Linked DNA regions of Homo sapiens: all the other regions are linked to region 1. Evidence: fine-mapped expression QTL. A gene starts in region 1. Each other region holds a variant in brackets. All regions are shown on one strand. Distances are from middle to middle.

Region 1 (4,223 bases):
ATTATCTGTCACCCAGGCTCATGAATCATCTCTGTTGTTGCTAAGTGGTTGGTTGTTCACCTGCATCTGTTCGAATATTTTCGGGTATGAAAAATGTACTATCCTTGTCCATTCTATTTTTGGAAATCTCTGGTTCCAGAAAATCATTTATTGTGTGAGCTGAAATGTGCCTCAGTGTCAGATTCATGCTTTGGTCCAAGGTTTGCCCTATGGAACATGTAGGACAAGTGTTCCCTGAGGTATGGGTAGAGGCAGTGTGTTTAGTGGGAAGCTGGTAGTCTTCAGAATTAAGCAGATCTGGGTTCACTTTCTGGCTTAGCCATTGACAAGCTGAGTGAGTCTGGATACTATAGAAGATGGCTTAACAGCCATAATTCCTTCCATCCCAGTATGACCCTCCTTTGCAATGTGACTTTGCAACTCCTCAAATCCAGAGGTAGATTCCATTTTTCCACCTCCTTGAATCTGGGCTGGCCTTTGAACTTGCTTTGGTCAACAGAATGTGGAGAAAGTCATACTGGAAAAGGTCTGAAGCTTAGGTCTCAGGGGCCTTGCTCCTTCTGCCTAGTTCCTCTTGGGATGCTGCCCTGAACCTGCCATATAAGGAAGTAATCTAGCCTATTAGATGTAAGAGGATGCTTGGAGGAGAACCGAGGTGTCCCAGCCAACAGCCTGCATGCTCTGACTAGAGCTTCTTCAATGTCAGCTCCTCCCCTGAACTTATGCAGGTGTTTTCTTGGAACTTAAATGTAAGACTTAACATTTAATCCGGAGGAATTTATTTTGATTTTTAGAGATGGGGTCTCCCTTTGTCATCCATGCTGGAGTGCAGTAGTGCAATCACAGTTCACTGTAGCCTCAGACACCTGGTGTCAAGCAATCCTCCCACCTCAGCATCCCAAGTAGCTGGGACTACAGACCCACACCACCATGCCTGGTTAATTTTTGTTTGTTTGTTTTTGTAGAAACGAGGTTTCACTATGTTGCCCAGGCTAGATTCGAACTCCTGGCTTCAAACAATCCTCCTGCCTCAGCCTCCCCAAATACTGGGATACAGGCATGAGCTATGGTGCCCAGCCCGAAATTTCTTTTTGTTAGTCTTAGCAGAGCACTCCACCTGTGCCAGGGCAATCGTGTTTTTTTTTTGTTTGTTTGTTTTGTTTTTTTGAGACGCAGTCTTGCTCTGTCGCCAGGTTGCAAACTCCACCTCCCAGGTTCAAGCAATACCCCTGCCTCCCTGCCTCAGCCTCCCGAGTAGCTGGGACTACAGGCACGCACCACCACCCCCAGCTAATTTTTGTATTTTTAGTCGAGAAGGGGTTTCACCACATTGGCCAGGATGATCTCGATCTCTTGACCTCGTGATCCACCCGCCTCAGCCTCCCAAAGTGCTGGGATTACAGGCGTGAGCCACCACTCCCGGCCAATTGTGGTTTTATATCTGTCATTTATTTCTCCACTTAGTTCATCTAGATCAGATGATTATTACTTCCATGTTTTCTATCAGTTCCTAAAAAAAAAAAAAACGTGAAATAGGACCGTGCCAGGGAAGGAAGCTTAAGGGACACTACTAAACACCTCTTCCATGCCTGTCACTGAGCCAGTCAATATTATTAACTATGTTATGCATGCATGTTATTTCCAAGCCTACAGATTGCTTTCACACATTAGCGTGTTCATCCATAGTGAATGTGGCCAGCGGAAATCTATATGGGCAGTAACATTCTTTCCTGAAGTCAAGATATACCACGTCTAGTAATGCTCTCCTGAATAAGTTATTTATTGAGTATCGACATCACAATCTACGTCTTTTCTCTTTGTTTATTGGATCACAGTGAATATAAAACTATACCTATAGTTACGATTATACAAAAGAATCTTAAGTCAGTGGTCATGGGTAAGACAGTAAACCAATTTATCTGCTTTCAGAGCTTTTAAGAAGTCAAAGTGCAAAAATGACAGTTTTGTGCAAAAAGAATTTTCAACGAGCCTGACAGCCAAAATATACCTGAAGTCGCTGCGAGACTTTACTTGGATTTTCATGAGATCGTTTGTGTGTGAGCACGCTCGTGTTTTTCCCAGAGCAGGTGTAATGATGGGTCTTTACTTACTCTCCCCACTCCCCACCCCCTTCGCACACTCTTTCACCTTGGGAAGGGTATGGGAATGAAGAAAGGAGTGTTAATCGGGTTCCCAGCGTTCCCTTATCTTTCACCTAGCTCCCTAACTACTGTGGATGTTAGGTTTGGGCACACCCATTTCAAGACAAGGAGACTGGTTCTCGAGGGAAGTGTGAGACTGAAGTTACAGAGCCTGTCAAAAGCGGAGCCTTATAGAGGGAGTAAAATCCCACGTGCTTCGTGCTGCAGCAGCTGGAGGGTGGACCTGGGTCGACCTGGGGGGATGCTCAGCCCTGCGGGTCCGGGAGCGCGCAGAACAGCGGGGAGGGCTTCTCCCTCTTCTGGGTAGGGGCGCGCTAGGTGGAGCCCCACCTCCCCTCCGCGGAGACCCACCCTCCGAGCCGGGAGAGGCGTTGCGGGGGGGTGGGGGGGGCGTGTCCCCTGGCGCAGCGCGGCCAGCGCGCACGCGCAGCGGGCGGAAGGTGCCCGGGCCCACTTTGAGCGCGCGGCTGCGCACTGAGCCGCCGGCCCTCCCGGAAGCGCAGAGCTCCGCTGGTGCCACGTCTATCCCCTTACATCCTCCTAGGACCCGGTCGGTAGTCGTCGCCCCAGCCCGCCGGGGGCGCAGCGCCCGAGCCGCGGCCCTCGAGACGGGACCGAGAGCATCATGGGCAGCACTGTCCCGCGCTCCGCCTCCGTGCTGCTTCTGCTGCTGCTCCTGCGCCGGGCCGAGCAGCCCTGCGGGGCCGAGCTCACCTTCGAGCTGCCGGACAACGCCAAGCAGTGCTTCCACGAGGAGGTGGAGCAGGGCGTGAAGTTCTCCCTGGATTACCAGGTGAGGCCGGGCGCCCGGCAGCGCTCCCTTCTCCCTCCACTCCCAGGTCTCACCTGGACACTGGCTAGCCCCTGACTGGAGGCGCTCGAATTAGCCACAGGCTACAGGGAGGCTGCATGGGGTGGGAGTCCCCGGAGACCAGTTGACTTCCCCGTGAGGAGGAAGGTTTGGGTCATCAGGGCCCACCCGAGACGAGCCTGGCCAGCGAGGAGGTAGTCAGCGCCGCAGGTGCGAGCCCGGGATGGGGACGCCAGGGCGGATCCCGCAGCCTGGGGAGCTGGCCAAAGAGATATCCGCAGGCCCCCGAGACACTAACCAACGGCAGTTCTGATCGGCTGGACACAGGCTCTCTAACCCCAGTCTCTTAGACCACCTTGTGCCTTCGAGTACTGAAAAATGGCAGCAAGAGGAAGTGGGCTCATAGTTTTAGTTTATTCCTCCCCTCTCCAGCGTTTAAAGTTGGAGTGAGGTGAGGGCAGCAGAAGTGAGAATGGGCACTTTGGAAAGGAGGGATCAGTGCAGCCATTGAGGCCTGGCGGTGTTTACAAGGAGCGGTGTGGCTGCAAGACTTGGCTCTTGCCATATGGCTTAGAAAAGCTCAGTTCCTGTATTCCTGTCTCCTTTGAGAGATCCCGTGGCCCACAGGTGACAGGAGCAGGTCTTGAGTGAGTAGTCTGCCCCGATATTTAGTGAGCAGGTCTAGGGTTGGGGGCCAAGTGGGCATCATACTCAGACAGCTATCTGCTTGTGGACGCATGCTGATAGGCACTTCAGAAATGAGGGGCCACGGGCAGCAGGAATGGGGGCAAGCTATTTGACCAGTTCCTCTGTGGTTAGAGGCACTGAAGGAAGCTTGCGCTTGGAGACAACTTCTATGTGGTAGTCTCAGTCACTGATTTGTCCACTTTCAGGTCTTTGTGGACAACATGCAAATTGTGACTGGGTTAACATGGGCAACCTAGGTGCAATGACAAAAAGAATGATAATTCTGTGGTTGCAGGGACCTCAGATGTCATCTGGTCACTGCCAGGGCGGAAATCCCTTGTCAAAGTGTGTCCAGCCTGGGTTTAAACACACTTAGCAACAGGATACTCACTGCTTTTTGCAAAGCTTGCTGAGCAGGACTAGTAACTTTTGTCCGGACAAAGAGGCCATTTAAATTTGGAAGCAGATGGAGGCCATTGACCGTGTCCTTTGATGGATCTTGGTTATAGCCATTGCCTACCTGTGAGATTTTGCTTTATGTGGGTCTTATTTTTCTTATGTTA
Region 2 (4,223 bases), 73 kb before region 1:
CAAGTCAGGAAAAACACCAAGCTTAATAAATGGTGCAGAGTAGACATTCAATCAATATTTGTTGAATAAGTGAATGTATTTATATATATATATTTCACTGTATATATTTACTCACTAGCTCTGGAGGGGGTTCATCTAGCTAGTTCTGCTTGGAAGACAAGAATTTTTCATCAGTTTTAGCTGAAACATTCCAATTTAGGAAACTGGGTCAAGCCATATCACTGTGCATTAATTATAAGTTGTGATTCCAGCAACCTGTAGAAAGATGAGAAAATGGTCCAGTACCTTCAGTTTTTCACAGCAACAAATGTACCTTTGACAGTTCCATGATCACCACCCCTTCCAATTGCTTGGGCCTTCATTGCTTACAAAGAGCTGCTCACACCCATGATCACATGTAACTCACCTTCAAGGATGATCGCGTTATTCCATTTTGTAGATGAGAAAATTAAGGCTCCAAGAGGTGAAAGAGCTTGCTTAGATCATGCCTGGTGGTTGGTGGCAGAGAAGCTGGAATCTGTGGGATGTGCCTAAATTGATTATCGCTAGAGCATGTGCTTGGTTACTTTGTTAAAGGCATAAAGGATGAATTCAAGGAGGATCCTGCCTGGTGTTACCTGCCTCTGGCTCCCCTGAACCCCTCAGGTAGAGGTTCTGAGGGTCCCATCTATATATTACAGCCTATCCCTGTTCCAGAGCCAATTTGGAAGGAGACAGAGGTGAGAAGCAGCCTCAATCCTGTAGACTTATGGGGCCACAGGAACTATTTCTGTAATATCATTGCATCCTGGGACCTGATAGCCCAGCCAGGATGCTGTCATCTACTTGGAAGCCATGGAGATGTGACCAGGGAACTTGGGTCAAGTCCAGCTCAGGGATGGTGGTGTTTATCTGGAGTGACAAGATGTTACACAGGTGAGGAAAAAAACCTACTATTGATTTTTTTGTGAAGAGACGAAGACTGAGTGGTTGTGGCCGTGTTGGTGACCTTGAGCAGCAGTTGGCTTCTCCATGTAGAACCCGGGAGTAGGAGACTCAGAATCGAATCTCTTCTCCCTCCCCCTCCTGTTTTCAGCTTTGTGAGAAACCTTATCAGCAAACACAATGGCCAGCAACGTTACCAACAAGACAAATCCTTGCTCCATGAACTCCCATGTGTTCATTGGGAATCTCAACACTCTTGTGGTCAAGAAATCTGATGTGGAGGCAATCTTTTCGAAGTATGGCAAAATGGGCTGTGCTGTTCATAAGGGCTTTGCCTTTGTTCAATATTTTAGTGAGAGAAATGCCCGGGCTGCTGGAGCAGGAGAGGATGATAGAATGATTGCTGGCCAGGTTTTAGATATTAACCTGGCTGCAGAGCCAAAAGTGAACCGTGGAAAAGCAGGCGTGAAACGATCTGCAGTGGAGATGTATAGCTCCTCTTTTCACTTGGGCTATGACTATCAAGGTGATTATGATGACACGATGTACAGTTACTCAGCACGTGTGCCTCCTCCTCCTCCTATTGCTTGGGCTGTAGTGCTCTCAAAACGTCAGCGTGTATCAGGAAACACCTCATGAAGGGGCAAAAGTGGCCTCAATTCTAAGAGTGGACAGCAGGGATCTTCCAAGTCTGGAAAGTTGAGAGGAGATGACCTTCAGGCCATTATGAAGGAGTTGACCCAGATAAAACAAAAAGTGGATTCTCTCCTGGAAAACCTGGAAAAAATTGAAAAGGAACAGAGCAAACACGCAGTAGAGATGAGGAATGATAAGTCAGAAGAGGAGCAGAGCAGCAGCTCCGTGAAAAAGATGAGACTAATGTGAAGA[T/A]GGAGTCTGAGGGGCGTGCAGATGACTGTGCTGAGAAGGGGGACCTACTGGATGATGATGATAATGAGGATGGGGGGATGACCAGCTGGAGTTGATCAAGGATGATGAAAAAGAGGCTGAGGAAGGAGAGGATGACAGAGACAGCACCAATGGCATGGATGACTCTTAAGCACATAGTGGGGTTTAGAAATCTTATTCCATTATTTCTTTACCTAGGCACTTGTCTAAGATCAAATTTTTCACCAGAGCCTCTCACCTAGTATCTTTGGCACATGCTCACTGTCCTTCCCATCCTTGTCCTTCCCATGTTTATTAATTCATATTGCCCTGCGCCTAGTCCCATTTTCACTTCCTTTGGCACTCTTAGTAGTTTTGTTAAGTCTTACCTTGTAATATTTGCTTTTAATTTTGATACCTCTTTATGACTTAATAAAAAGGATGTATGGTTTTTATCAACTGTCTCCAAAATAATCTCTTGTTATGCAGGGAGGACAGTTCTTTTCATTCATACATAAGTTCAGTAGTTGCTTCCCTGACTGCAAAGGCAAGCTTATTTAGTTGAGTAGCTCCTGAAAGCAGCTTTGATTAGAAGTATGTGTGTTACACCCCCACATTAGTGTGCTGTGTGGGGCAGTTCAACACAAATGTAACAATGTATTTTTGTGAATGAGAGTTGGCATGTCAAATGCATCCTCTAGAAAAATAATGAGTGTTATAGTCTTAAGATTTGTTTTCTAAAGTTGATACTGTGTGTTATTTTTGTGAACAGCTTGATGTTTGGGAACTTTTTTTCCTCAAAATAAACAGGTCCTTATTAAACCAGGAATTTGGAGGAAAAAAAAACCCTGTTTTTTAAATTTTTGTATTTTATTATTGTTTACTTCAAACTCTTTGTTTTACAGAGTCCTCCACAAAACCCCCAGAACGTACTAGATATATTTTTCTTGAAGTCATAATCATTATGCATACCAACATAACACTACTCAAATTCTATTTCATTGAGATGCATGTTGCATTGAGGAGTCAAATAACTTGACAGAGAGTGGAGATTGTTTTTCAAAATGGCTTTTACATCCTAATGAAAGTTTGGGAAGTATAGCCTCTCTGCCTTTTCATCAGTGCTTTGTGGTCCAGCTGGCACCCTTTTTGAAGTTTTTGTTGTGTGCTAAATTGTTTTGTCTTTAAATAGGAGAGGCTCAAAAACATTAAGATTTCAGGAAAATTGCAACAGCTGGAAAATGGAACCCCTGCTTTCTTCTATTTTGTCTTTTTAATTACTATTTATAGCCACAGTTACCTTCTGAATTCTGAAGTGTTACCTCAATGTTACTGAAAACAAGAAAATTCTTATTTCCTGATATTCCATAGTCTGCCTTCCCAGGTGATTGAGAACATAGAGAATGTTACACATTTATTTTACCCTAAATAATCTTTTACTCATATTAGCTAATCTTTGTGTTTTCTCTCAACTTTATTAATTGCAGTGATTGCATTTTTAGCATCCAGTCTTCTTAAGATGAATACATTAAATAGCTACCAGTGTTGTGATACCTCATCCTTGAAAGGCCTAGTTCATTTGTGTTTTATGCTTCAGTTTTTCCAGCACAGCAGAAAATGGCATTTATAATTTTTGTGCACACAAACCTTGGATTCCCCTATAAAGTTTCTATTGTTTCATAGCATGCAGCACTGGTATTTTTTCATCCTACCGCGTTACAGGCAAAACTCATGTCTTATTTATAAGGATTTTATAGATCATTTTATATAACAGGTGAAAAAAGCAGAATAGAAAGAAGAGGCTGAACTATGGACTACCCTTGGAGCCCAGATACATGATATCAAGGCACTTTCTTTTGTATGTTAATCGGTTAATAATACTACCCACTTGATGTTTTCTGATCTGATGTGATCTCATGTTACACAAACTTTTAGTAAGTAACCCATGACTAGAATATAAACTGGTTACTTAGGAAAAACAAAAAACAAACAAACAAAAACCCTACTATTTATTCAGTGCCTCCTATGTGCTGCCCCTGCATTATCCATAATCCCCATGGCATCTTGCGATACTATTACTATTATTCCCTTTGTATTGATGATGGAACGGAAGATTGGAGAGTGACATCTTACACAGCATCTCAAAGCTGGCAGTGGTCCAACCGTTCAAATCCAGGTCTGTGTACTATGATCCCATACTTTTCTCATCAAGGGGACTAAGGGACTCCTGTAACAAGGCTAACTCTAGTGTCCTCTTCCTGGGGAGAGCTCAGTCACAGACTTTGATCACTACTGCTACTGGGAAGGTAGGAATTAAGCACAATGCTCTGTTTGGATCCAGTAATTGAATTATACTCAACTATTGGATTCCCACAGAGTGTCTGTGCAGATGGAACAGGGCCTTCCTCCCTGAC
Region 3 (4,223 bases), 100 kb after region 1:
AGTTCAATTTGGCACTTTCAGATATTCAGTGCCAATCTTCCAACCAAAGGATGTCCTCACAAATTTCTATAGATAAAACCATTATAGGAAATCAATGCGCTCCTGCATTTTCCAGTATAACACAGCCACAATGCCCCAGATATAGGCAGGGGAACCAAGAGGTAATGATTGGAGGTGGGGCAAGGGAGGACCCGTATTCCATTTGCAAAGTCACAAACACTGCTCAGAGTTCATGCAAATGGGCCCGCTAACATTAATTTGCTGGACAATTGTTTCCCAGTGTGAGCCTTAATTTCTTCATGTGTAAAATAAGGTCGTTGGAATAGATTTCTTATACATCTCTTTTAAAAAGAATATTCTGTGTTCTTTATTGACCATTCAACCAAATAAAAGCACTTTGTCTGAATGTTTTCCTCAGCCTTCTGCTCTTATTAGAAAGTTTTGGTTCGTATTGTAAGAAAAGAATGCCTTTGGTTTGCCTGGAGCCGAGTGACAGCTATGTATTATGGGTGAAATTTTGTTAATAGTGAAGAGGCCAAGGTTCTAGTTTGGCTGCAGCAAACAACTTGCCATGTGACTGTAGATTAATCATTTTGCTGTTCTGAGCCCAATTTTCCTGAACTGTAAAATAAGCTAGAGGATACAGAAGAAATTGGTAACCTTAGTTGCCCCTGTAGAGGGGTAAACTAATACCCGAAGATCCATTTTAGGAAATTTTGTGCTGAGTTTAGATAAGAGGTATACTAGATTGGATTGGTACTTTTCACTACACCCTATGCTCCTTTCATACCCGATGAATTTTACGCCGCACACATATGCCACCTATTCATTAAGTAAATAATTGTTTAAAATGAAAAATAAGTTCATAGGCCTGGGAGGTTTATATATTTCCTTCCAGAAACATAGCCCATAATTCTATATGCTTAGAATGGTTTATAGTGTTCCCTTTCTTTATCAGCCTCATGGTTAAATAAACAAGACATTAAATATTATAGATTCATAGAAAACTAGGTAAAATGACAAAGCAACCCATTCTAATTCAGGATATTAATAATTGTGAAAAGACCCAATTTTTCCCATCGGAATGAAGCATCTGTTCCTTATTACTGACAGTATAGGAGAGGGTGACGCTGTCATCTAATTGCATCTTCCTAATTGGGGAGAGCACTTGGAGGGGCAGCTGTGATGTGGCCAGCAAAAGAGCACAACTATCACAAAGGCAGCCAGCATGCCAGACAGGATGTTCACTGCAACTGGATGAAAATTGGTTTAGGTAATACAGTAAATTCCATCACCAGCTTAATTTAACAGGAAATGACTGCTATTGGGGACCTACAAAATATTCCTTGAAGATTTCCCATAGGTGTTTAAGCTTTAAATTGTGGAAAAAAATAAGATACATGTGAAATATATATATGTGTATATGTGTGTGTGTATATATATATATATATACATTCTCGTAGATGCATGTATATGAATAACAGCCCAGGATAAAGGAAAAATAAAATTATGAAAGTTGGCAGCAACCTCTCAGAAGCAATGATTTGCAAGTGCTTCAATCTAAATTATAATTTCCCAAGTCTATCACAATACATTTCCAGAAACATGTCCTGCCTTTTTAATGAAAATATATTGACAGGAATGTCACATCTATAC[G/A]ATAGTGTTTTATGTGTCTTTTGACCCCTGATGTCAAAGCATTCTCTTTATATTTGTCTTACTGATTTGTAACCCGAGAACAAGAAACATGCTGGTTGCTCATAATTAGCAATAGCAAAGAAATTTTCAGAATTCCAGAACTGATCATTTTATTTAATCACTTAAGGTATGCGGGAAGAAATAGTTGCAGAGATATTAGGTAACTCACCCGGGGTCACACAGGCATCCAGGGGAAAAACAGGAACTAGAGCCTGTTCAATTTATCTTGTGGTTCCCAAGAGCTCCCCATTTCTGGCAGGTGAATGTGTAAACTTTCTGGCTAGGGGAGGATAATTAGAGCCAGCAATAAAGGTAAATTCTTCCACAAAGGGGCTAGGCAATCAACAGAACTAGAGAATGCAAATGGAGGGCTTTATCCTGGGCAGTTCATGGTTCCACATTTCATCCTTTAAATCTTTTTATCTTTTTGAACAATGAAGAGATTCAGAGGAGCTTATTGGAAGGAGGTGGACAAGATGGTCGACTATATGCAGCCAGGCGGAACACCTGCCACCGAGGGACTGGGACGACTGGCACCCTCCTAACAGATTTTCAGCGGGGAGGCACTGAGAGTGGATGGAGGGAAGACACAGAAGCTACGCTGAAGTGGGAGGAAGCTGCTGCACAGAGCTACCATGCACTGGGACTAGCTCCTGGTCCCCAGTGACTCCAGGGGAACAGGTGAGTTAAACTGGCAAGGAACAACCTGCTCTCACCACAGGCCTCTGGAATCCCGGCAGGAGGAGACTCCTTGACCACCACAGACACTTGAGCTGGCAGGGAGAGTTGCTTGGAGAAGTGGTAGGGGCAGCACTTCAGCCTGGGTGGAGCCCAGAGGGTTTGGTGTGGGAGCATTTGCAATAAAGCATAGCCAGGGACAGCCATCCCTCTAGGCTCGACTTGCTCCCATGGCAGACTTTAACCCTAGGGGGACTGTTGAAACTAAATTCTTCAGGGTGGTCTTGCCTGTCAGATGAGGCCAGTTCAATAACCTGAGCACCCCTTGGTTTTCTGGTCTCTCCTGGAGCCCCAGACTGGCCGTGCCTGCTTGCAGTGCAGCCTTGGGTAGCCCTGGGGGCCCGCATCACAGCTCCTGTGCTGGCAAACCACACCATGTTTGCCAGTGCAGTAGCTGTGATGCGGGCCCCCAGGGCTACCCAAAGCAGAAAGCTCCAGCACAGCAGCCCCTATGGACATGCACCAGCCCAGCCACTTCCTTCCTCTACTGCAGTTTCCGCTGGGCCCATGGCCATCCCCCCCAATCACTGCTGGTGCACATGTGAGCAGGCAGATCTTGCCTTCTCTGCCCTGCCAGTGTGCATGTGTGCATGTGCCCTGCCCTGCCACTGCTGCTGGCATGAGTGAACTCAGCCTCCTCCTCCCCACACCATGCCATCATTGCAGTCAAAGCCTTGGCAGGCACAGAGTCCACCAGCCTCACCTTCACCAGTGCCTTGCCCCTGCACTAACACTGCTGCTGGAGTGAAACTAGGCAGGGAGAACAGTGGACTTACCACACCCTGAGCAGCCACCCTTGCCTGCAAAAACTCAGACAGAGGGTGCACGCAGACCAGCACCTGCCAGTCTCCCGCTCCCATGCTAACACCACTACCAGCGGGACAGCATGCGAAGTTGCCATTGGGCGTGAGGGGCCCACCTTCCCATGTCATGCTGCCTCCACTGCTGCTGCCAATGCCCACATGGAGGCTGGCACCTGGGCACCCCCTAGCACCCTGCCATAGCCAATGAGCATGCACCCTGCTGCGCTGCCACTGCCACTACCACTGGCACATGTGAATGAGGACAGATTCCACTGCCACTGCCCTACAAAATGCTTTGGCTGGCACCACCCATTGGAGTGTTGTGACCAGCAGTCAGGGAGCACCTTGGCTGCACCCAGCACAGTGGGTTCCTAACCTTGAGGAGCCAGAGAACGAAGTTGGGCCTGATACCAATCCCCTAGGGTTAGGGTATGCAGTCTAGGAGTTGGAAGCCTAGCTTTGGCTCCCTGAAATTTTCCAGAAATGAAGCCAGTCATTTGAACTCATCTTATAACACAAGCAAACCCTCAAGGTCATCAAATAGGATACAAGAGAAAAAAAAACCATCCCAAGGACAGCAACTTCAAAGACTGAAGGAACATCAGTCTGCAAACATGAGAAAGACCCAGAGCAAGAACTCTGAAAACACAAAAAACTAGAGTACCTTCTTTCTCCAAATGACCACACTAGCTCTCCAGCCAGGGTTCTGAACCCGCACATGTACCCCTAAACTTAAAAGATTTTTAAAAAAGAGATTCAGAGAAGGACTGTAGCTGTGGACCCAAGCTCCCTTCAAAGCACTGGCAGGTCAATCGTTTGCAACGCAGACAGCTGTATGTAGAGCTCTGTGATCCACCCAATTATTGGCTCATCAAGGAGTGTGCCACATGCCAGATGCTCTGCAGAACCCAACAGAGGGGTTGCTCCTCCATGGAAACAACAAGAAGCTTTGATCAAAGAGCCTGTATTGACTCCTTCAGTGAAATT
Region 4 (4,223 bases), 520 kb after region 1:
TATGCAACCAGAGCAAGAAGGACTCTAAAGAGCCACTTATTCAGTGCTTCTCAAGTGTGCCTTTGTCAGAAGCACTTGCTAGCACAACAAATCAGTCTTTTTTTTCTGGAAATTCTGGTTCAGTACATCTAGGATAGGACCAGAAAAATCAACATTTTTAAACAACAGACTAAGGTGGTTCTTATGATGTGGCAAGGAGTTGATTTTGTCCAGTGCATCTTACATTCAAATCACCCAAAGAGATTAAAAACCACTATCAGGGAGTTCCATTTCTGCCTTTGATAGGCTAATATATTCAGATCAACTCTACTACCAAGAACAAATAGAAATGCCCTGTTTGAACGCATCAGAGAGCTATCAAATGTGGTGAGGTCTTACGGCACCAAGATCTCAGAGAGAAAGAAAGCACAGAACTGAACCTGATATTTGGCACAGCTTTTTGCCTCAAAGCATTTGTTGATTCTTAAGAAAAACTTAAAAGCTGAGAAGTTGTGCTTTGTAGAAACTGATCAGTGAAGAAGCCAAGAGGAGAAATGAAGTAGAAACTGGCAGCCAGGAGTCTACAAAGCTAAGCAGAGCTTTGCTGCCCCACCATCCTGGGGAAACAAAAATAGTGCAGCCATCACCAAAAAGGAGCGGCCCTGGTATGCAACCCAAGCTTTCAGAAGGAACTCCTGAAGCCTGGGAATAAGGACTAACCCAAATAAGCCAGTATTCACAAAAACTAAAGACTGGCTTCAAATCTGCTCAATCCCAGACTGGATTATAACAATCTGCCCCTATCTTGACTTCCAAAAGCAGAAAGAAGTAAATGCTCTAAGGGGAAAATAGCATCATCCAGAGGCTCAAATTCTCTCTTCAGTTTTTCATACACAATGCCTGACATTCAATAAAAAGTTACAAAAACAAGACCAGGTGTGGTGGCGCTCATGTCTGTAATACCAGCAGTTTGGGAGGCGAGGCGGGCAGATCACGAGGCCAGGAGATCAAGACCATCCTGGATAACGTGGTGAAACCCCGTCTCTACTAAAAATACAAAAAAAAAAAAAATTAGCCAGGAGTGGTGGCATGTGCCTGTAGGCCCAGATACTTGGGAGGCTGAGGCAGGAAAATCGCTTGAATGCAGGAGGTGGAGGTTGCAGTGAGCCAAGAGATCACGCCACTGCACTCCAGCCTGGGCAACAGAGTGAGACTCCATCTCAAAAAAAAAAAACAAACTTTTTTTAAATAAATGAATTATGAAGCATATTGGGAGATGTGCAAGGCCAGAAACCAAGAGAAAAAATAGACATAGAAAGAAAAAGCTCTAAGGAGACTCTGATGTTGGAATGATCACACAAAGACTTTCAAAATAACTGATTAATATGTCCAAGAAATTAATTTTAGCAAAGAGTTAAAATCTATTTTAAAAAATCAAATGAAAATTCTAGAACTGAAAAATACAATAATTAAAACTAAGAACTAAATAGATGGGTTTAATAGCAAACTAGACACAGCTGATAAAAAGATTAGTGAATTCAGAGATAGGTCAATAGAAAATATCCACACTGAAAGAATGAGAGGAAAAAATGAATGGAAAATACAGGTGGTAGTAGAGGGGCATGTATGGGACATAATGGGACATGGCAAGCAGGTCCAACATACATGTACTTGGAGTCCTGGAGAGGAAAACAACAAATGGGTCAGAAACAATTTTTACAGACATGATGACTGAGAATTTTCCAACACTGACAAAAGGTATCAAATCA[C/T]AGATTCTAGAAGTGTTATGAACCCTAGAGGAGTTCAAAGAAAACCACATTTAGGCACATGTAGTAAAACTGCTAAAAAACAAAAACAAATGGGAAAATCTTAAAAACAACCAAAGTTAAAAAGTAAATCAATTTTTAATTTATTAATCCATTATTTACTTTCATTATGTATTAATGGTCAATTATATCAGAATCTCTGAGAGTTAGGCCAGGGCATGGGGCAAGTGGAGAGGGCTTTTTACAAATATACATTCTAGAGCACCATTAGAGATTGTGATTGAGCCAACTTGGGGCAAGGCCCATGAATCAACATTTTCAGCCATCAACAATGGAGTTGATTCTGATGTAGAAGTTCACAAACTACACTTCCTCAAACGTAGCTCTGTCCTTATCCCTTTATAACTAAGGAAACAGAGGCCCATCCAGGTAAGACTGAGGTCAGCTCAAGGTTATACTGTGAATCAATGGCAGGGCCACAGATAGCACATTGTACAGTCACATGGCAATTCCAAGAAGCAACTCTTCTAACCTGGTACCTACAGGCATCCTAGTCCACAGCAAGGAAGGCAGGGGTCCCAAGTGCCTGTAAGGATTCTTAGCCACAGGAAAGATATCAGGAAGGGATTGAAAATACTTGCTCACCTCTACAGGACAGGCATGTGTGAGGCACTTTTACAAATTCCTTTTGATTCCAAAAGTGGGCCCAACTCTATACCATTTATCCAACTTACTATACTGTATTAAATGCTTGATCCATTATCTCTTTTAACCTTTACCACAAACCTATGAGGTAGATATTATTATCATTCCTCATTTTATAGAGGCACAGAGAAGTTAAGTGACATATACAGGGTCACACAGATAAGTGGGGGAGTCAGGAAATGAACCTATTTAGAGTATACATTACTCCTCCGTTCTACTGCCCAAACCTGACTCCCCTATCCCCACCCACCCACCAATTCTCACACACTTACCCTGCAGGTCAAAGGGTGGCTTCTTTAACATCTCCGGCTCTAGACTGTTTTTGGTGATGGGATAAGCCCAATGGAGCAAAAGGAGAACAGGAACTGGAACTGGACCCCTAGGTAATCACCCTAGCACCGCCACTCCACTCTGTGGATTCACCAAAGTTCCTTCCCTCCTGTGGAGGTCAATTTCTTCATTTGGAAAAGAGGGTTTTCATACCTATCTCATGATTGTGGTGAGATTAAATACCTTTGAAAGCCTTTCACTACTCCAAATGTGAGCTCCAGAGTGTGGCTGACATGGGAGGGGATAAGTGTGGGCTCTACTGTTCTTGGAAAGACCTAGGCACTGTGTCCCATAGTGGCTGGCTGCACCGTGGACGGCTCCCGAGAAGCTGGGAGGCTCAGTCTACAGAGTGACGCTGTGCTGCCGGCCCGCAGTGTGCCGCAGTGTTCATTTCCGCGAGAGCCTACGCCTTTACGAGGTGAGCTCATGCTCTGTCCACTATCCGCACAGCCGACAATTCCCACGTTATTAAATGGCTCACCTGGCTGCACTTATTTTATAAAATAGCATGAGCAGCCATGCAGTTATCTATAGGTTTTTCAGTAAACTTGGAAATCTGATCATCTCAGTCTCTGAAATTTCCCTTCTGGTGGCTGATGTTGATGAGATTTTTTTTTCCTACTTTTATCTAGGCTTTAATAAAAGGCTGATAGATTAAATGGTATGAAAAAAATGCTTTTTTACAAGTGATAATAATACAGACAGGGGTAATTCTGCGCAAAACTGTCAAGAGAATAAAATGAGGTATGGAACTCTCCCCTCTCCTTTTGTTACCTTTCATCTCCATGGCGGTTGGGGGCTGTGACCCACCTTCACCCCTGCTGCAGCTGCCCTGAGCTCAGCATCCTCAGGTGATTTTCTATGATATTTGGAAATCTTTTATAGCCCCTTTGCCCCTAGAAGAAAACTCCTATTGTGCTGCCTTCTACCAAATAACATGTTGGGGGTTTAGTAATCACATGACAAAGATCTTTCCTCTGCAGACAGGCCTATATCCCTGGGGTTCAAGGGGAAGGATTAGAGAGGAAAAGAGGGGAAGGTCGAGGCGGAGGTCAGGGATGAGCAATAAGAAGAGAGGAGGAAGAAGAGACAGAAGGATAAAGGGAGACAGGAAGAGGAAGATGGGTATGGAGGGGGAGAAGGGGGATGTGTAGTGGTTGGAACATCTGCAGAGACTGAAAAAGCAAGAAATGTAACAACTTGGTGAAGACACAAAGGCTTGTAAGGAAACCAAGAGAAAAGCCAGGTTTGGGGAAAATGTCAGAGTCCAACAGAATAGACTAGCCAGCTGGGGATGGGTTGAGTCTTGGGGCTTCATAACCAGAGAGAATTAAGCCTAAAGGGCATGCCTAAGCTAACAGAGACCCCATTGGGCCCAGCCTTCCTTGGAAGGAGCTGATTACTGCAGACCTGACCTGAAGGGCTGAGCTAAAGCAGCTGCTC
Region 5 (4,223 bases), 51 kb before region 1:
ACCCACAAAAACCTGTCTATTCCTTTTAAAGTTTTTTTCTAACCATTGCTATTGTGAATAGGCTCCTTTTCTCATGCTAATTCTTACTGGTGGTGATATAGGAATTAAAAAGAAATTAGGAAGATAGTGAGGGTATGGGAGTCCTCGGTAAGGTTTTCCTTTTAATGAAAAGCAGCCCCCAAATCATTTTCTTTTTAAGAAAGAACAGCCTGTAAAATCAAGCTGCAGACATAGACAAGCAAGCTAGAAGCTTGCACAGGTGAATGCCCACAGTTGTGCCAATAGGAAGAAACTACCTGGGAATAGGCATGATGATCAAAATGGCGGCTCCATCTTCTCTTTTCCTTGCCAACCACGTGTACAGCAAGGAGCAGACAAGATGGCAGTTGACTAAGTAGAAAGTCCATTTGCATAATAAGATTGTGGGGGCGACCAGCCTTACCCACACACCATGTAAACGTCACACCTGGTCAAACCAATCTGTGGGCCCTATGTAAATCAGACACCGCCTTCTCAAGCCTGCCTATAAAATCTGCTGCAGTCTGCCGCTTTTCCCCCTTTCAGAAGTCTCTCTCTCTCTCGCACGAGATATAGCTGCTCTCCTCTCTCTTTTCTTTTGCCTATTAAACTTTCTGCTCTTTAACCCACTCCATGTGTGTGTTTCTGTGTCGTCTCGTTAATCTTCTCGGCATGAGATGACGAACTCCAGGTATTTACCCCAGACAATGATGCCACTTCAGTGGCATATGGAATAAGTACTCATTTTTGTGCATTTATTGTGTAAAATTATTGATATATCTTTTAGTTGCTTTTCCATGGAGTGTGTTGGGTTTTCAAGGTGGGTAATAACATTATCTGCAAATATTCATAATCTCTAACATTTTAATATTCATGTCTTTCCTTTTTCTTGCCTTGCTCATTCCATCTTAGTTTTCAGATCCAGATTACAGCATCTTGAAGGCAAGTAACTTCGGTGTCTTATGCATGCACTGTCATCTGTCAGGTCATGGGGACCACTGTAGGCAATGGTTCAGAAGCAGTGGGTCTTGTGTTTGGATCCCACGGGGAGGGCCACACCCAGGCTGGCCCAAGGCTACATCAGTCTCTATTACTGTTCAGTGAAGCCATATGTGAAGCCAGGAGACTGCTGTGTCAAATCTAAGAAACCCAAGTAAGGATGGAAACAGGAAAGTAAACAGCAAGGATGGAGACCAGAGGGCTTGTAAACAAGAAAGAATGGATGTGACCAGTGGGTAAACAGGTATACGTGAGGTGGGTAAGAACCTGATAATGTGAAAGGTGAGGGTTTCTCTCTTGTATGTGTGCCTGGCCACGCCTGGCTGAGACATCATGACTACACATGGGCCATTTTTGTGCCTGCCTTGACACTACTGTAAATGAAAGAAAGTGTGAGTAAAGGCCTTGGGAAATGAAGGTCAGTTATCAGTTAGGCAGTGTCCAGGGAGCAAAGCAGGAGGCAATGGGGACTGGCCATCAGGTCCTCTTCATTTAGTGTTCCAAGAGCTTCTTTAATTTTAGAGAGTTTGGCTTTGGTGCCTCCATGCTCGACCTGGTCCTGTGAACGTCCCCCGCCTTCACTAAATCTGTGAGAGAAGTTCTTGGGCCCTAGGCTCCTGCTGCAGAGATGGCTCTCCTAGTGCCCCAGCCTCAGCAGCACCCCCAACTGAGCCTGTTTCCAGAAAAAGGGCCTCATCCATCACACTGTTGTTGATCTTCTGTCTGACATGTTGCAGCATTTCCCAAAAGGGGTTTTCTAGAAACCCTGCATAGATTTGGTTTTTCTGTTATTTCAAAATAATCTGGGATATGACTTGTTAAGGTTAAAAAGTTAATTCCTGGACCCTACCCAGGATACACAGAATCAGAATATTTAGACACAGAAATGTACATTTTCAGTAAGCTATCCAGGTTATTCTTGTGGGCATTAAGTTTGCAAATCGCTTTTTTTTAAGGCAGTGGTTCTCAAAGTGTGGTCCCTGCATCAGCATCACCTGGGAACTTGTTAGAAATGGAAATTGTTAGGCCTCATCAACCTCCTGAGTTAACAACTCTGGGTTTGAGGCCCAGTATTCTGAGTTTTGAGAAGCCTCCAGGGGATTCCGACGCACATTCAAGTGTGAGAACCACTGGATTAAGGCAAGGGTTCTCAACCCAGTCTGCCCATGAGAATATTGTTA[G/GA]AAAAAAAAAAAAAAGAAAAAAGAGAATATTGTTAGAAAAGTCCCTAGGACCTTTTAAAAATTGGCAATGCTCAAGAAATTCTGGTTTAATTGATCCAGTGGAGCCTAGGCATTTTTTTGCATATGTGTGTTTTATTTGTTTATGTATTTATTTTATGGACTCTAGTTTTTAGAGAAGTTTTAGGTTCACTGCAAAATTAAGCAGACGGTACAGAGATATCCTGTATACTCCCATCCTTACAAGTGTACAGCCTCCCCATTATCAATACCCCCTGCCCAGAGGGTAAATTTAAAATGATATTTTTAAAAATAAAGTGTATAAATGATAAAGCTGTAGTGACAAATCATTATCACCCAAGACCACAGTTTACATTAGAGTTCACTCTTGGTTTTGTGCATTCTGTGGGTTTAGACAAATGTAGAGTGACATGCATCTGCTGTTATTGTATCATATAGAGTGGTTTTCCGCCCTGAAAATCCTCTGTGCTATGTATGCCTAGTCATCCCTCCCTCCCCACTATTGCCTGAAACCACTGATCTTTTTGAGCCCGAGCGATGATTTTAATATGCAGCGGGAGATGAAAAGGATGGTTTAGGACAGTGGTTCTCAGGGAATGATTTTGTAGCCCAAGGGATGCTTGGCAAAATCTGGAGATGTTTTTAGTTATCACAATGGTTGGGGAAGAGGCGGTGGTGGCTGCTACAGGCATCTAGTGGGGAGAAGCCAAGGATGCTGCTAAACATACAGAATAGCCCCAACAACAAAGAGTTACCTACGTGGAGATGTCAGTAGTGCCAAAGTTGAGATACCCTTGCCCCGGGGAACAGTCATACTCAAGAATCTCAGCTTCTAGACTTAGTAAAACAAAGTATATATTTGCTGGTATCCTCTCATTCTCAGAAGCAAAAGACATTACATCTAGCTTAATCATCCCTGCCTACATGATAGCATATACAGATATGCTTACACAAAATAACATTTGCATTCATAAAAGGCATCCCCAATATACATGTAAACACACACATGCAGATGAGTGTACATGTTGCCCACACGTGCATACATGCTGATACTCATATTTACTAAACCACACATACATACACAGCCACACACCCCACCACAACTCACAATCATTAAAACATGCACATATACATACACATGCACACACTGTCTATCCCATTTATTAAATGACAAGCACCCCAGGGCCACCCAATGTTCTCCTGCCTTCTCTGGCCCCATTCTCCCTTCATCCTACCTGAATGACTGTCTTCAGAGGCCTGGATGTTGGGCTTGACACAGTGGAGGCTTCCCATGCCAAGGTCAAGGCTGCATGTCCATGGGGTGCTGACCAACCAAGCAGGGTGCAAGGGGGCTCTACTGGGCAAGGTGCTTGGGAGCTGCGTGAGAGAGCAGTGAGAAGGGACCTCAGGTCCAAGACATGCCAGGAACCTGGGAGGGATGAGGGCAGGGAGAGAAAAAGGAGCCAAACTGATGCTCAGCTAGCTCAGGGGAGGAGAGTGAGAAAGGGAGGACTAGGGAGAGGCTGGGGCTGTGCTGAGGCCCTCGACGGAGCACACTGTCATCTCTGTCTGTATCTGTTGTCTTCTCAGCTGTTAACGGTCCACTTGACGCTATTTTAGACACTTCCATGTACATCTTTAAAAACCGTACTGAAAAGAGTACTTGTTTTTGGAGACAGGTAGGTTAAGTTTGAATCGTGGATCTGCTACTTGCTGGCTGTGTAATCATGGGCAAATTTCCCAAGCTCTCTTATCTTTCGGTCTCTTATATGAGAATTGGGCATAGCAATACCTATTCTAAAAGATTTTGTAAGGATTAAGTAGGAGGAAATATATAAATTGCTGATAAATTACCAGGCATGGAATATGCCCCTAGCAGTACTAGATCCTTTCTCTTACCCTCTCTTTAGGTACTTTGCATGTATTAATGCATGTTTATTCCTAGAATAAAGCCTTTTTATGCTCTGTTGAATTGGAAAACACTTCCAGAAGCAGGATAACTGGGTC
Region 6 (4,223 bases), 200 kb after region 1:
AATTAAGAAGCTCTCCTCACCACCTGAAAGCTCAATATGGGCCACTCATGTGAGATCCCTCATTACCCCCCTTCCACTCTCATGAACCACTTCTCACGCTGCTGAAATGGACTGTTTTCTCATCTGTCTCTCCTGCTTGACTGTAAGCTCCCTGGAGGTAGGGACTGCATTCACCAACTCCCCAGCACCCATCGCTGTCCCTAGGAATATGGTAACTGTTGACTTCCTGTTGAACTCCCTTTCTCATTCTCTGGGAAGAATCAAACCTTGTGGGGAATGGCAAGTGAAGGAGAAAGCAATCCAAACAGCAGGCTACTATGTTTATCCACTAGAATGACTCCACCGTCCCTCCATTCAACTTTCTCTCCACACAGTGATGGCAACAACTAGAACAGGAAAGGCAACGTGGAGGGGAAGCTCTTGATTTATTCGGGTACCCCAAATTCCTCATCTGTATTATCCCCCCTGAGGTGAAATTAAATAGGCCACCTACTATCGCACCATTTATTACACTTAATTTCCATGTGTTCTTCCTATAAGCATGAGGAGAGAGCTCCATTGCCAGGTAATAACTAGGAGTAACATATGCCTATTTCAGCCTTTACCAAAGTCTAAACTTGACTTGATCAAACATCCAGTGTTGACTCCTACTCTTACGGTCCAGAGAGTGAAAGCTTCCTTCAGTTCTGTTGGTGTCCTCTCCAGGATCCCATACATTTCTACATTATTTCCTTACGCTAATACCTTAACCAATGTCAGTGCTATTGACTAACCTCGATTCTTTCCTTTTCTCCAGTACAACATTTTCTCATTCTGATCAATAGTGTTTACTCAAGAATAAACATTCAATAATTATTTACTGAGTGAATGGACCTCAGACCATTAACAACTCATCATTTCTAACCACCTTGGCTTTATCCATCTGGAAGGCAAGATCCGTTTCCTATTTCACATTACTGTATAGGTAAATAAGTTAGTCCAGACCAGTGGCAGGTTGTGAAATTATGAGAACAAATAAATCATCTGGGTAATAATACACACATTAAGTTATAGAATCACAGTACTTTATTTCAATCATCCCTAAGAATAACATCTACTCTCCCTGTGTCACCCTGGTCTAACAATTACCACTGCTTGTAAAAAAAAAAAAAACCAGAGTAGACATGCTGCTACTTAAGCTGCATTCTTATGCTGATATATGCTTGTATATGCTGGCTATCCCAGCTGAAAGTGAGGATATCTCCTCCTAAACATCTATTTTAAAATTAATTTTAGTCCAATTTTTCTGACTTTTATTTGTTTGGTTTTAAACTGGAAGTGTCTGTAGTTACTGCAGGGGACATATTGTCAATTGGTGCTCAGGGAAGGCTCTCTGAGCAGGTGTCTTTTGAGGATGAGAGAAGCCAGCCACCGCTGGGGACAGAACATTTGGGAAAGCAAGAACTAGTGCAAAGCCCCTCGTCGAGGCTGGCAAACAGAAAGAGGGATGGTTCAGAAAATAGAACAAAACAAACAGAAATGAATAGACTAGAATCTTCCTACTCAAAGTTAACCATTTATTATCATTCCTTTCTATATCATCCCAATCAAATTACAGCATGCCTTTCTTCTTAGCACTGTCCAGCATTTTCCTTATTGCCATAGGTTGATAAGGTGTTGGTTACTTAACGATTCCC[CT/C]GTTGTTGGATCCTCTCTTGGGTTGATTGTGGTCTCCCTGAAACTTTCTTCTCCGCCATCCTCCAAAACAGTCCCTAGGCCCCGCTCATTTCAAACATTTCATTGAGGAACAACAAGGCACAGTCAATGAGTACCTTGTGGAGAAAAACAAAGGTCCTAGCATTTTCACAAAGTCCTCTGAGTTGGCCTGAGTTATCTGGGTTCCTGAGCCTGGAGCCCACACACTCCCTCTTTTATTCTGATGCCAACACCTTCCTCCAGTGAATAGGCCTGGAAATAAATCAGGACTGAGACAAATGATCCAACTGGCATAATGTCTGAGCACCCTCTGGTCAGCCACCCTCTGCCCCAGTGTCCCAAGGCCCTTCTGGAAGAGCCTGACTTCTCAAAAAACAGAGAAGGAGCCCAGTCCTAGAGAAGGGAATGATTACTGGGTTTAAGGGGCTTTGCTTTCCAAGAATACTTTTCCTGCCTTCCTTCTTTGCTATATGCAAACCTTAGCCCTGGTGCGGTGGCTCATACACCTCATGCATGCTACCTCTCCAGCATAAAAAGGACCAGCTTGTCCAGGGGGATGCAGCCCCATGCTCTGGCTGTAACTGTGAAGGGAGGCTGGAGAGTGAGTGGGCAAAGCCCCCACCTCACACTGAGACAAATGATCCAATTGGCATAATGTCTGAGCACCCTCTGGTCAGCCACCCTCTGCCCCAGTGTCCCAAGGCCCTTCTGGAAGAGCCTGACTTCTCAAAAAACAGAGAAGGAGCCCAGTCCTAGAGAAGGGAATGATTACTGGGTTTAAGGGGCTTTGCTTTCCAAGAATACTTTTCCTGCCTTCCTTCTTTGCTATATGCAAACCTTAGCCCTGGTGCGGTGGCTCATACACCTCATGCATGCTACCTCTCCAGCATAAAAAGGACCAGCTTGTCCAGGGGGATGCAGCCCCATGCTCTGGCTGTAACTGTGAAGGGAGGCTGGAGAGTGAGTGGGCAAAGCCCCCACCTCACACTGCCTTGGAGGAAGAAAGAAGCTATTCCAACCTGGCAGCTGTTATTTACACTTCTGAATAATGTGTGAAGGCGGGAGTGTAGAAACAGTAGCAGATGACTCCAGAGAATAGGAAAACGAGGCCTTTGACAAAGAGATGTACTATTTATGTGAAACCCAATGCCTCTGCTAAGAATATATCCCCAGCACCAAATGCTTGTTCCTGATACAAGAACTACACAGATAATAAAGTTATTTCCCATCTATCTTTCTCCCAGGCTGCTGGCCCAGGTGTTTACATCTAACAGTTAGCATCTCCATTTTCCAGGGCCTGATTTCAGTGTAATGCTACAGAAGGGGCTCGCTGTTCTAGTCCTAGATCCTTGCTAACTGATTATGCTAGATTCACTTTATTGGTAAAATGAAAGGCTAAGGGGATGAAATGAAATTATTCACGTCCACTTTGACATTTTATGAATAGAAAAAATCATTTAGCTGGTCGATGGCCTGGATGGGGGTTTCCTTCTCCAGCACTTGTGCTTAGAATTGTTTATAGCAGGCACATAACATGTGTTGAATGAATAACTTTACACACCAAACCGTTCAATTTGAATTTTTATAATTATGGAAATTTATTCACACTGTCTGAGAGCAACTAACACCACACGATGTAGGGGAAGTCCGCGCGACTCAGAATAAATATCAACTCTTACTTGCAGGTGAAGAAAACTAACTAGAATAAGCAAAGGAAACAAACACAGAATTCTTTTATTTTTAAAAAAAATTCATGTGGTTGTAATGTAGGAAGGATGTGGGAACGGTGTGGGAAGGGTGTGTGGGAGCCGCCCTTGGAAATCACTGCACCTGGCAGTGGAGTGCTGCCAGGACCCATTCGCCCCACACTTTGTGCTCCACTCCAAGCCTGGCGTTCTCTCCTGCCCACTGGTGGGCTGGAGAGCAGGGAAAGGGGCAAGAGCCTACCAGCTGGAAGTTCCATATTCACATCTTAACAGAGCTACAGAAGAAAAGCAGCTTCTATTCTGCCAGGTAAAGTGTGAACAATCTCAGGGAAAGACTGCAATTGGCCCACCTTGAACCCCATGCCACCCATTGGCCCATCTGTTCAAGGAGTGAGGATATGATTGGCTCAGCTCTGTCACGTGCCTGAGTAGTGGGCGGGGCTCCGTTCTACGGAAAGTGGAGTAGCACCGTGTGTCTGTTGGGGGAATTTGTGATTCAACAGGAAGAAATTGAACAGAGTGTTGCTTGCATTTGGCCTCAATTATAAATATGCAGTGGGGACTTGTCACAAAGTGCACATTGCAGTAACTTCAATGTTTGAAGATGCTTGTTAAAGCAGATTCTGTTCAGAATGATCCTGCCTGCTTCAGGATAGGATAAGAAGAAACTAATGCCTTAGACAGATAGAATTTTTAGGGAAGCAAAAGAATTCCCCTTTAAGGGAATAGTTTTACGTGTTGTAAGAAGTTTACTAGGCCACACTATATTTTCTATGAAATAAAACAAATATATGTCTCCTGATTCCATTATGGGAAGAAAAA
Region 7 (4,153 bases), 22 kb after region 1:
CTACATATCTATAGCTATATTAGTACATTCTCACATTGATACAAATAAATACCCAATACTTGGTAATTCATAAGAAAAAAGGTTTAATTGGCTCACAGTTCTGCAGGCTGTACAGGAAGCATAGTAGCATCTGTTTCTGGGGAGGCCTAAGGGAGCTTTTACTCATGAAGCCAACACTTCACATGGTGAAAGCAGGAGTATGAGACCAAGAGGGGAGGTGCCACACACTTTTAAACAACCAGATTGTGAGGACAGCACCAAGAGGTGCTAAACCATTCATGATAAATCTGCCCCCATGATCTAATCACTTCCCAGCAGGCCCCACCTCCAACATTGGGGATTACAGTTTGACATGAGATTTGGTGGGGACATAAACCCAAACCATAACACAGTGAACTGATTTTTGACAAAAATGCTGAGAACCTTCATTGGGAGGACAGTCTTTTCAATAAATGGTGCTGAAAAAACTGAAAATCCACATGCAGAAGAATGAAAGTAGACCCTTATCTTTCACCCAACACAAAAATCCACTCAAAATGATCAAAGACCTAAATGTAAGACCCCAAATGTTAAAACTATTAGAAGAAAACAAAGGAAAAACACTTCAGGACATTGGTCTGGGAAATGATTTTATAAATAAGACCTCAAAAGAACAGGCAAAAGAAGCAAAAAAAAAAAAAAAAAAAGGATAATATCAAACTAAAAAGTCTACACAGCAAAAGACACAGAGTGAAGAGACAATCTGAAGAACAGGAGAAAATATTTTCGAAGTATTCATCAGATAAAGGATTAATATCCAGACTGTACAAGGAACTCAAACATATCAAAGATAAAAAATAAATCCAATTAAACAATGGACAAACAATCTGAATGAATATTTCTCAAAAGAAGACATATAAATGGCCGACAAAATATATGAAAATATGCTCAACATCACTAATTATCAGAGAAATGCAAATCAAAACCACAACAAGGTATCATCTCACCCCAGTTAGGATGGCTATTTTGAAAAAGACAAAAAATAACAAATACTGGTGAGGATGCAGAGAAAAGGGAACTCTTATACACTGTGGAAGCTGAGGTGGGAGGATTGCTTGAACCTGGGAGACGGAGGCTGCTGTGTGCTATGATTGTACCACTGCACTCCAGCCTGGGTAAGAAAGCAAGACCTTGTCTCAAAAATAAATAAATACATAAATAAGAAAGAAAAGGATGAAAAAGACTTTCCAGGGAAATAACCAAATGAAAAGTGAGGCAATAGCCGTAGCATCTGACAAAATAGAATTCAAGGCAAACTATCGTACTGAACAGGAAGATTACATACTGATGTTAAAGGAACCAATGGAGGGAATGATAGAGCAGGTAGATACCGCCATCATCAATGGATAGAATTAATAACTGTATTAATTGAGAGCAGCAGACAGGATTGCCCATCAGGCTCCAAGGGAGACAATCCTGTACAGCTGCTTCAAAACTCTCAGATGTGGTGATGCCTCGCTCACACAGGCCATCTGGCCAATGCGAAACTCTTCAGCCTGGTGAGGTGGATGAGTTAAAAGTGGGAGTAGAGGGCAATTGGGGCACATTCAAGCTATTATTTTACCAGAATCTTCCTCCCACTAAGACATGTTAAAGACTTGGTTTTTCTCTTAAGGGCAACCCTCCAGCAATAGTCCCATAGTTTATTGCCATCAGGAAGATGTTGCCTTCTGAGAGGCTTGGCCAGTATGCTGGGGCAAGGCGGGCTGCTTTCCAGACAAGGTAAAACCGGCAGGCCCATTCTCGCTTATCATTCAGCTGTAAGTGTCTCATGGTGGCCTCCTTCCAGGCCCACGGACCTACCTGGTTGTGATTTCCCATGGATTAATATCTCCCTCCTGGAGCACAGCTGGGTGACATTCTGAACAAAAGTCATCTGATCTAGTGTTTATGATGTATTCTGGGCTTCCATATTGTATGATGTGGGACATGGAGTCTAGCAATTTAACTTCGTCA[T/C]TTCCAAACTTTCAGGCTCACCTCCTCTCCAGCCTTAGGGAAAAACATAGCTGAGGTGAAGCCTGTGGCCACTTTATTCCCAGTCTGTGCAGGAATGAATGGCCCCTGACTGCCCAGTGTTCCATCTCGCCTGGTTTGCTTCCTCTGTGCTTTGACATTTGCATAAATCCTTCTCTTGCACTCCATTCTGACTGCCTGCTTGCAGTGGGACAGTCTTTAAACTCTGTGTATTCTAGGACATTCATCTCCAAAGAACCAAAAGTCGGAGTGCATCTGTGCTAGGACTTTACCTGGTACAGGTCTACTGGGGAGACCATTCCCCTGTGACATTTATTTAAGCAAAATTGTAAGAATGCTGATAGAACATTCTTGGTCAAACTCATAGGCAAGCAAAATCTAACACAGTTGAATGACAGGATATGGAGCAAGTTTGGGGAGAACCTGTTTTTCCAGCTCTGGTGGCAGTGACAGACTAGAATGTTGTTAACTCCTCCCTGCTCACCACCAAACTGCAAACTGGAACTTTTAGGTTATGTAGAAAGCAACTGTCTTTTTCCTAATATAACGCTAGACATAAGCGTTTGTATGCCCTCAAAACTACTGAGCCATTATAATTCTGGAGATGCTAACATAGTTTAAGGCTATTTTCCTTCTGCAGGTTTGTGTTTTTCAGTTCAATATTTGACCATAGGAAGAAATAGTCTTCAGATATGGCTTCTGCACCAGTAACTACTTTTACACTTTTGATCACATCCTGGAGAAATCGTTCAAGAACTTGATAAGACTTTCACATGTTTTGTTGGGCTATTTTCAGCTTTCAGTAGTGCACAGGAAACAGTAATGGCTTGGCTACCTTTTTTCAATATAGACTCCTGGTGGCTGAGGCCCCCACACCCTTTGTTTAAAGCTACTGTGAGAATTAGAATTAGTAGGAAAGAGTCCTCAAATGACAATATAATATTTCAAACTAAGTAAAACAGGGCTGTACTCAGGTAGATTCTCCTTCAAACATGGTTTGAATCAAAACCAACTTTATTAATATATATGCACTCACCTCAGCTCTAAGAAATTGGGGAAAACATATCCTCCTAAGCATTTGTGGTTTGATAAGATTATCACAAATCCAGAGTAGCCTCACAGACCATAGCAAATTAGTAGAACTTAATTTGCTATTAGCTAATAGCAAATTAATAGAACTAATAGCTTAAGAGTAACTGTTCTAAACTAATTATCTTGGGCTTCTGAAGTAAAAAGGAAGATCCCTGTCTTCCCCCGACATCCAGTTCCTTAAAATCAACCCAAGCAAATAAGAGTAAAATAGAATTTAAATTACTGAAACCAGGAAAGAGCCATAGTCAAAAATCACTAGCTATGAAGAGTGGCTGTCAAATGCAGTGATATTTGAACTAAAGGGAAGGAGAGGACTAGAACAGTCCTAGAGGGTTAAGACTTTCCTAAAAGAAGAAGGTTTTGGTCCTGAATGGCCAAATGGTGGAGCTTGGAATGGCAGCATCTAGGGGCCATGTGTGAGCAGCAGGGGTGACCCCTTCTCTTTTCCTCATTTCAGAGTGGCAGGGCAGGTGGGGTCAGAGGAGAAGCTTTTCAGGCAGGTGTGCAGGAGATGTGGCAGGTGAAGGAAGGGTCGGGGGGAGCTTTATAGCCCCAAATCTCAGGAGAACTGATGAGAAAGGATGTGGAGAAGGCACCTCTGACTCGCAGCTTGCTTCTGCCTCAACTTCTCCCCACACAGTGTGACTCTTCAGCAAATCAGTGACCTGGATCACAAAAGGAAAAGTGACAATTCAAGACCAGGATCACGGCAAAGTAACAAATAGAAGGCACGCAGGAAATGTATTTCGGAAGAATTACTCCAGGAAGTCAAACAGTGCACACATTTTTTCCCTCATAGTCTTAGAAAAAGGAAAAAAATTAAAAAAGGCAACAAGACTTCAGAGAAGGTTACAAGAAATTGTAGAAGGGGTTATAATACAACAAAAGAGATGAAAAGGAGCTGTCCAGTCTCAGGGAATATGTGGAAGAGGAAACATCATTTCAGAAATGATAGTTAACTTTAAGATGCCAAAATGAGAACAGGCACTGCACTGCTGAAATCAAGGGAGGGACACTAAAGAAAGGCTTGAGAAGACTGTCTGAAAAA

Direction of the effects. Alleles are on the strand shown, and positions count from the first base shown. SD is a standard deviation of normalised expression in the study named. Not every link is listed here.
For the expression in monocytes of the gene that starts at base 2,650 in region 1, GA is the high allele of the variant in region 5 and G is the other (moderate effect, 0.75 SD a copy in Fairfax 2014).

Evidence for each region. PIP is the estimated chance that this variant, and not a neighbour inherited with it, causes the effect.
Region 2: its variant is fine-mapped to the expression of TMED3 in whole blood (INTERVAL, PIP above 0.99).
Region 3: its variant is fine-mapped to the expression of TMED3 in whole blood (INTERVAL, PIP above 0.99).
Region 4: its variant is fine-mapped to the expression of TMED3 in whole blood (INTERVAL, PIP above 0.99).
Region 5: its variant is fine-mapped to the expression of TMED3 in monocytes (Fairfax 2014, PIP 0.92).
Region 6: its variant is fine-mapped to the expression of TMED3 in whole blood (INTERVAL, PIP above 0.99).
Region 7: its variant is fine-mapped to the expression of TMED3 in whole blood (INTERVAL, PIP above 0.99).

What each region holds. Positions count from the first base shown.
Region 1 is chr15:79,308,463-79,312,685 of GRCh38, forward strand. It overlaps TMED3 (transmembrane p24 trafficking protein 3), which reads left to right and starts at 2,650. Exons shown (of 3, transcript NM_007364.4): 1 at 2,650-2,955. The coding sequence starts at 2,788. RefSeq lists silencers at 2,494-2,543, 2,754-2,823.
Region 2 is chr15:79,235,228-79,239,450 of GRCh38, forward strand. The region is part of intron 1 of ANKRD34C-AS1 (ANKRD34C antisense RNA 1); the gene reads right to left. It also overlaps the pseudogene HNRNPCP3. Among named protein-coding and RNA genes, the nearest start is that of MIR184, 28 kb to the left of the region's middle. The variant T/A (reference allele first, on the strand shown) is at 1,813.
Region 3 is chr15:79,409,265-79,413,487 of GRCh38, forward strand. It overlaps a transcript of TMED3 not described here and a transcript of MINAR1 not described here. Among named protein-coding and RNA genes, the nearest start is that of MINAR1, 21 kb to the right of the region's middle. The variant G/A (reference allele first, on the strand shown) is at 1,657.
Region 4 is chr15:79,827,013-79,831,235 of GRCh38, forward strand. LOC124903536 (a long non-coding RNA gene) reads right to left here. Exons shown (of 2, transcript XR_007064730.1): 2 at 1-4,223. Among named protein-coding and RNA genes, the nearest start is that of MTHFS, 68 kb to the right of the region's middle. The variant C/T (reference allele first, on the strand shown) is at 1,749.
Region 5 is chr15:79,257,254-79,261,476 of GRCh38, forward strand. All of the region lies in intron 1 of ANKRD34C-AS1 (ANKRD34C antisense RNA 1), which reads right to left. Among named protein-coding and RNA genes, the nearest start is that of ANKRD34C, 23 kb to the right of the region's middle. The variant G/GA (reference allele first, on the strand shown) is at 2,199.
Region 6 is chr15:79,510,329-79,514,551 of GRCh38, forward strand. All of the region lies in intron 2 of LOC105370919 (a long non-coding RNA gene), which reads left to right. Among named protein-coding and RNA genes, the nearest start is that of MINAR1, 80 kb to the left of the region's middle. The variant CT/C (reference allele first, on the strand shown) is at 1,677.
Region 7 is chr15:79,330,876-79,335,028 of GRCh38, forward strand. It overlaps a transcript of TMED3 not described here. Among named protein-coding and RNA genes, the nearest start is that of TMED3, 22 kb to the left of the region's middle. The variant T/C (reference allele first, on the strand shown) is at 1,996.